Linked DNA regions of Homo sapiens: region 2 is linked to region 1. Evidence: fine-mapped expression QTL. Tissue or cell type: whole blood. Region 1 holds a variant in brackets; the other region holds the start of a gene. All regions are shown on one strand. Distances are from middle to middle. Region 1 overlaps GPRIN3 (GPRIN family member 3). Region 2 holds the start of GPRIN3 (GPRIN family member 3).

Region 1 (2,916 bases):
CCACTCTAGGAAACTAAAATACCCTCTCTACTCTTTCTTGCATTGCTAATAATCTCAACACAACTCAGCATTTTCTTCTATGGGAAGCCTTCCTTGCACTTTCCCATCCCTAAACCATTCCCCCTTAATTACAAGTCTTTCCTCTGTTGTCTCATTGCATTCTAAAGTCTTTATTATAATGCATTGCTATGCAGTCATCTTTTTTTTTTTTTTTTGGTCTCTTTAGTAAGAGTACTGTAGAGAGTGAGTGGGTGCCTGGTAGTCTCAGTATCCTGCATGGTGCTGGCAAGAAGAAAAAGAAGTACAGTTATTGTTTGGTGAATGCTAACATGCCTCTAAAGAAATGTGATTTTTATTTCGTGTATAATGCATTGCCAACAAAATTACTGTAACATAAAAGAATAGCCATTTCTATTACTGAAGTTAACTATATTCACTAGCAATGATGAGAATTATGTCCATCCTATCTCAAATCATGAATTATTTGCTTTGAATTTATTTTACTGTTTTGAATAGTAGTTTATAACAAAAATCAATGTCATATGAGTATCTAAATAATAGAAATATCCTTTGTAAACAATAAGATACTGGGAGTCAGGAATGTTTCCAACATGCCTTGTTACCTTGACCCTCAAGGGGTTGTAATCTCTCACCTGCTTCAGTGGTGTGCATCTATTATTGGGATAAACTCACAGATTTATAAGCCTCATTAGGAAAGGAAGGATCCAAAGTGTGTAGAACAAGCTTGTCCTTATGCAGTCCAGGACAGCTTTGAACATAGCCCAACACAAATCTGTAAACTTTCTTAAAACATATGTGATTTTTTTGCAATTTTTTTTTTTTTTTTTTTTTAGCTGATCAGCTATTGTTAGTGTGTTTTATGTGTTGCCCAAGACAATTATTCCAGCGTGACCCAGGGAAGCCAAAAGACTGGACAACCCTGGTGTAGAATATTAATCTGACAAATCACTTGTCAGAAGTATGGGATTTTTACCCACTAAAAACTACCTCTTCGTGGCCCGAGGTGGCTCAGAGAGCTATCCCCACTTTGCTGTCATGGGAACTATGAATCACAGTCTCAGAGTCTACATCGAAGACCTCACAAATCTGTGGAAATCTGCCTAATAAAGATATAATAACTTGGACTTTTAAGAATTCACTAATTTGATGACTTGCCACACATGCGATTATGTTACCCTCAGATGGTAATGGAGGAATGTTTTTCTGAAAGTGATAAGAACACTATGCACATACGTTCAGGCCTAAAAAGACCGATTGTTATTAATATTAACAAAGATAGCCAAGGCCTTTAGTGTTTTGTTTGTAAAATCCCTTGCTTCATTGAGGGCTATGAGAGGAAGTAAAGACAGGCCTTCAGAGTAATTATTTTTCTTATTCACTCAATTCATGCAGCTGAACAATAGGCCTATGTAGCACAAACATTAAACATTACTTTTTAGGCTATCCCAAATTGTTTAACATACACAATGTGCCAGGCCTGTGGTGGGTTCTAGAGAGCCACAAAGGCTCAATTCCTGCCTTCAGAAGCTCACATCCACTGGGCAGAAA[G/C]GTGATTTCATTGCTACAGATTTCAATGGTAACACAAGAAAAGAATGACTCATTCCAACTTTTGCAATCAGGGAAAGCTTCCGGGGAACCAGTGGAGATCTGCTGCAAAACAGGGAAGGAAAAAAATACCAGGAACATAGTAAGTAATCACACAGATCATGGTACACACAAGGTGGGTGGAATCTGCCAGTCCTCACCTTCAGGAAGTTCATATCTAGTGGGGGAGGCAGAAACATAAAGGGAGACTGGACTACGGTATAATGGTGAGCCCTTTGGTAGAGCTCGGCATAGGGTGTTATGAGTGCACAATGCTGGCATATCTAAGAGAAGGCCCACCCAAGGCCTCTGAGTGTAAGCAACAGCAATGCTGCCTTGAAAACTAAGCAGGACTTCACCAGTGGGGAGGAAAGGGCATTTCAGGTGCATATGGACAAGCATGAATAGATATACAGGCAGCCTACTGGGGAAGTGGTTGAGGGTGGGGTGGGGCTGGAACAATATTTAGTTGGCATGGCTGCAGCTCCGGATGCAAGATATAGGGCTAAAGGGTGTGACAAAGTAAAACTGCGGGGGGCTTTGTAAGTGAAACTGTGAGAAGTAGGGCACTGGCAGCAGGAACTGAGGGAAGGATGGACCTAGAAATACTGAAGAGGTCAAATCAGCTGTGCCCTCTGATTGAATGCGAAGGATGAAAGAATGGAAGGATCCAAGGTTTTAAGACAAGGCAGAAAAGCAACTGTGTTGAGGTAAACGCTATGACAGATGGTATCACAGGGTACCCACCACAAGCTGGTGAGGTAAGGGCCTCAGCAGGATTCTGGAAAGGTGTGCTGGGCAGAATGCCCTGAAGGATGGGGAGTCAGCCAGGTGAAGGAATGGGTGGGTGGAAGAGGCCACTAAAGCAAATGAACGGCATGAACAGAGACAGGAGGCTGAAGACCACATGCTGGAGGACTGCCAGCCATTCAGAATTACTGTCCCTTACCTTCTGGAAACATTTCACTGTGTGAGAGGCACAGTGGTTAACAATGCCTCTAGGATCAGATTATTCAGGTTCACATCTGGTTGGCCACTTACAAGCTGTGTGGCCTCAGGCAAATTAGTTGACTCCCCAGTGCCTAAGGTTTGTAACACTTGCCACCCAGGAATGAAAATAACACCTTCCTCTAGGATTGTTGTGCATTCTTAGAAGAGAGTTTTGCACACAGGTTAGCTAGTAGTAACAGCAATAATATTAGTGATTATGGTAGTAGAATTACTTGGGCTTTCTTACTAACAGGAACTCACCACCAGGTCTACCTTCCAAGTCCACTGCTCCTTCCCTAGCTCCCTTTTCTCACCCTGAAA
Region 2 (2,916 bases), 24 kb after region 1:
GTTTTTTTTTTCTCTTTTGAATCAATAACCTATTCCCTCGATTAAAGACACACAAAACTTGAAAAACTAAACACACACAAAAACTCGAAAAAGAACATTCTCTAACGCAAACTCCTGTCTTTTGCAGATAGCAGCAGAGATTTTCTGCTTTGGGCTGTGACTCATGTACCTTTATTCCCACAATTGTTACTCAGGGCAGGCCAATGGTGAGCACAATGGGAAAAGAAAGAATAGGTTATAACTGGAAAATAAGCACATTCGGGCGAAGTACACTCAAAGCATTATCAAAGTAAAATATGCAGCAGCACCAACAAGAGCAAACAAAAGCCCACGCAGGAGATGTGTAAATATTTCATGAAGCAAAGCCTTAATCAACCCTCTCTCCCAAATCTTGCTGGTGTTGTAAACACTTCAGTTTCTTCTAGTCCCACCATGACCCAGATACCTTGCAAAAACAAAATAAAAACATAGTCCAATGGATCTTTAAACAAATGTGTTGTGAAAATATTTAGATGGAGCATACCCAAGTACCGCTTTAACCAAGAGGAAGAAGACACCTTACTCAAAGGTGGGTGCTTCTTGAGTGACTGCTCAGAGCTCTGTTTCTCCCCTCCCCCTCCAAGCCCTTGCCTTTTGCCCACCTCCTCGGCTGCTTTGTGGACATTCACATCGTCTTAACCTTGAACTGCCTACACCCCAAGCGGTGATTTCTCCCAATGGCCCTCCAGAAAGCCCTTGAAACCTGGTCTGGATTCGATGCCTTCCCATCACCCAAAATTCACTTCCCAGTGGCATATTAAGTACCTCTCCTTTTTTCCCTCTTTCACTGTCCATTATTGCGTCTGAAATGATGCCTACATCGTTTCCATCTGCCTGGAGAGCATGAAGATCTTCTGTGTGTGTTGGCTGACAGGCTCCTTCAGACCTCTTCTAAAGCCCATCTTGAAAGAACCGTTTATCACCTCTAGTCTCTACCCTGATTTAATGTGGTTCCAAAGTTCGCCTCTATTAGTGAACATGTCTCTACAACGATTTCCCTTTATCAACCCCTGCCCGCCCTTCCTCTTCTTTCTGCCTACCTCAAGAAAACCTATTTACATATGCATTTATGTATGTGTGTGTATATACACACACATACATACATCCATATGTAATATATATTTCTATGTTTTGACCTTAAAGGGGATAAGCATAGGAAAATGAGACAAATGTCACACACACACACACACACACACACACACCCCTCATATTCGGATATTCGCAGTGTGCAGACCCGATTGATTATAAATTTCCCTGCCCACGATCAGCAGGCGTCTTCTCCCATTTACCTTCAAAGCCAGAGCCAAAGAGAGCAATGACCTTGCAGAGAAATTCATCACCTGCGAGAAAGACTGCCCCTCCTAGAGCGCAGGATGGGACAGAGACAAGAGCAACAGGCAAAGGATCCCTGTGCAAAATGTGGGACCGAATCCCTTCCGCATCCCTACAGAGCACACCACCAGGCTCCGGTCCCCCGCGCTGGCCGCCAGGCGGAGGTGCGCAGGGGGCGTCTCCTACCTGCTCTGCCCGGCTCCGCGGCGCGGCGGGGCCACTGCCTGCGCTGTGGCGGGGGCTTCCCGTCGCATATCCCAAGCACCGTCTCTCGGCGCCACACCGATGGCTCCGGCGGGCCCGCGAGCTGAGGTCCTTCTCAGCCCGGTCCCGGAGCGAGCTCCGTGCGTTCAGGAACTGAAATTACTATGCCAAGAGCAGAGGCGGCGCGCAGCAGTCGGGCGTAGACCGAGGGGGCTGCCCCCACCGCGGGGCTGCAGACGCCGCCGCCGCCCCCGCCGGGCGCAGAGCCAGTTTGGAGGTGAGAGTTCACTTGCCCGACTGTTCATCCGTCAGGCCCGGGGTGTACCCATCTGTCCAGCGCTGCCCAGCCTGAGCATCCGAGAGAGGGGCGACAGCTTTGCAGGCGGCGGCGGCGGCAGCAGCAGCGGCGGCAGCAGGAGGCCGAGCTCCGCCCCCTCCAAACCCCCTCCCCCGCCTTCCCGGTCCTGGGGGAAAGTGTTGCAGCCCAGGCTGCTGAGCGCCGGGCCGGGAGCTAGGAGGGGTCTGGTGGGTTGTGGTTCTGCACCCCTGGAGACCAGAGACAGATGGAAAGTTAAGAAGGGATTAAGGAAGAGGGCTGGGGACCCAGAGCGATTTAGCAGGCATTCTGGCCCTTGCTCCCTCCCACAGGTCACCAGACTCCATGGCTGAGTCTAGACTCTAGCAGAAGGTTTCCAATAAAGCCACGTGCAGTGGAGATCTGAAAGCAAGATCATCCGATAAGTAATATGTTTTGCAAAATGTACAGTATCCTGCGTATTCGGAGAGGCACTGCTGACAGTGTTCCTGTCCCCATCCCCTTCCCGCTACCCCATGGGCTTGGAGGGCTTTGAGGGCTTTGGAAATCTTCCCTGTTGAGCAGCTCCAGAATCCTGAATGGATGTGTAGTATGGTTAGCAGCTGTAGATGGTGCAAAATGATACGATGAAAAGAGCTTCATTATTAACTGGGTATTTGTTGGAAGGCTCTGTGAAAAATGCCTTACATACAGCCTCAGCCTCTTTAATTCTTACTACAACCCATTGAGGTGCCTTACCATGTGGACGAGGAAACAGGCTTATATGATCTAAACACTTTGCTTGAGGTCACACAGTAGTAACCTGCTCAGCTGGGATTCAAACCAATCCAAAATATATCCTCTCATCTAGTACACAGGACTCACCTAGGGGGTCTTGTTAAAATGCTGATTGTGATCCAATAGGTCTGGGGTAGGGACTGAGGAAACGCTTTTTTAGTTTTTTGTTGTTGTTGTTTTTTGTTTTTTGCTTCGTCTCCTAGGCTGGAGTGCAGTGGCGCGCTCTCGGCTCACTGCAAGCTCCGCTT

Evidence for each region.
Region 2: it holds the start of GPRIN3, and the variant in region 1 is fine-mapped to the expression of GPRIN3 in whole blood (TOPMed, PIP above 0.99).

The regions. Positions count from the first base shown.
Region 1 is chr4:89,281,764-89,284,679 of GRCh38, forward strand. The region is part of intron 1 of GPRIN3 (GPRIN family member 3); the gene reads right to left. Among named protein-coding and RNA genes, the nearest start is that of GPRIN3, 25 kb to the right of the region's middle. The variant G/C (reference allele first, on the strand shown) is at 1,570.
Region 2 is chr4:89,306,058-89,308,973 of GRCh38, forward strand. It overlaps GPRIN3 (GPRIN family member 3), which reads right to left and starts at 1,743. Exons shown (of 2, transcript NM_198281.3): 1 at 1,558-1,743. RefSeq lists silencers at 1,693-1,742, 1,753-1,822.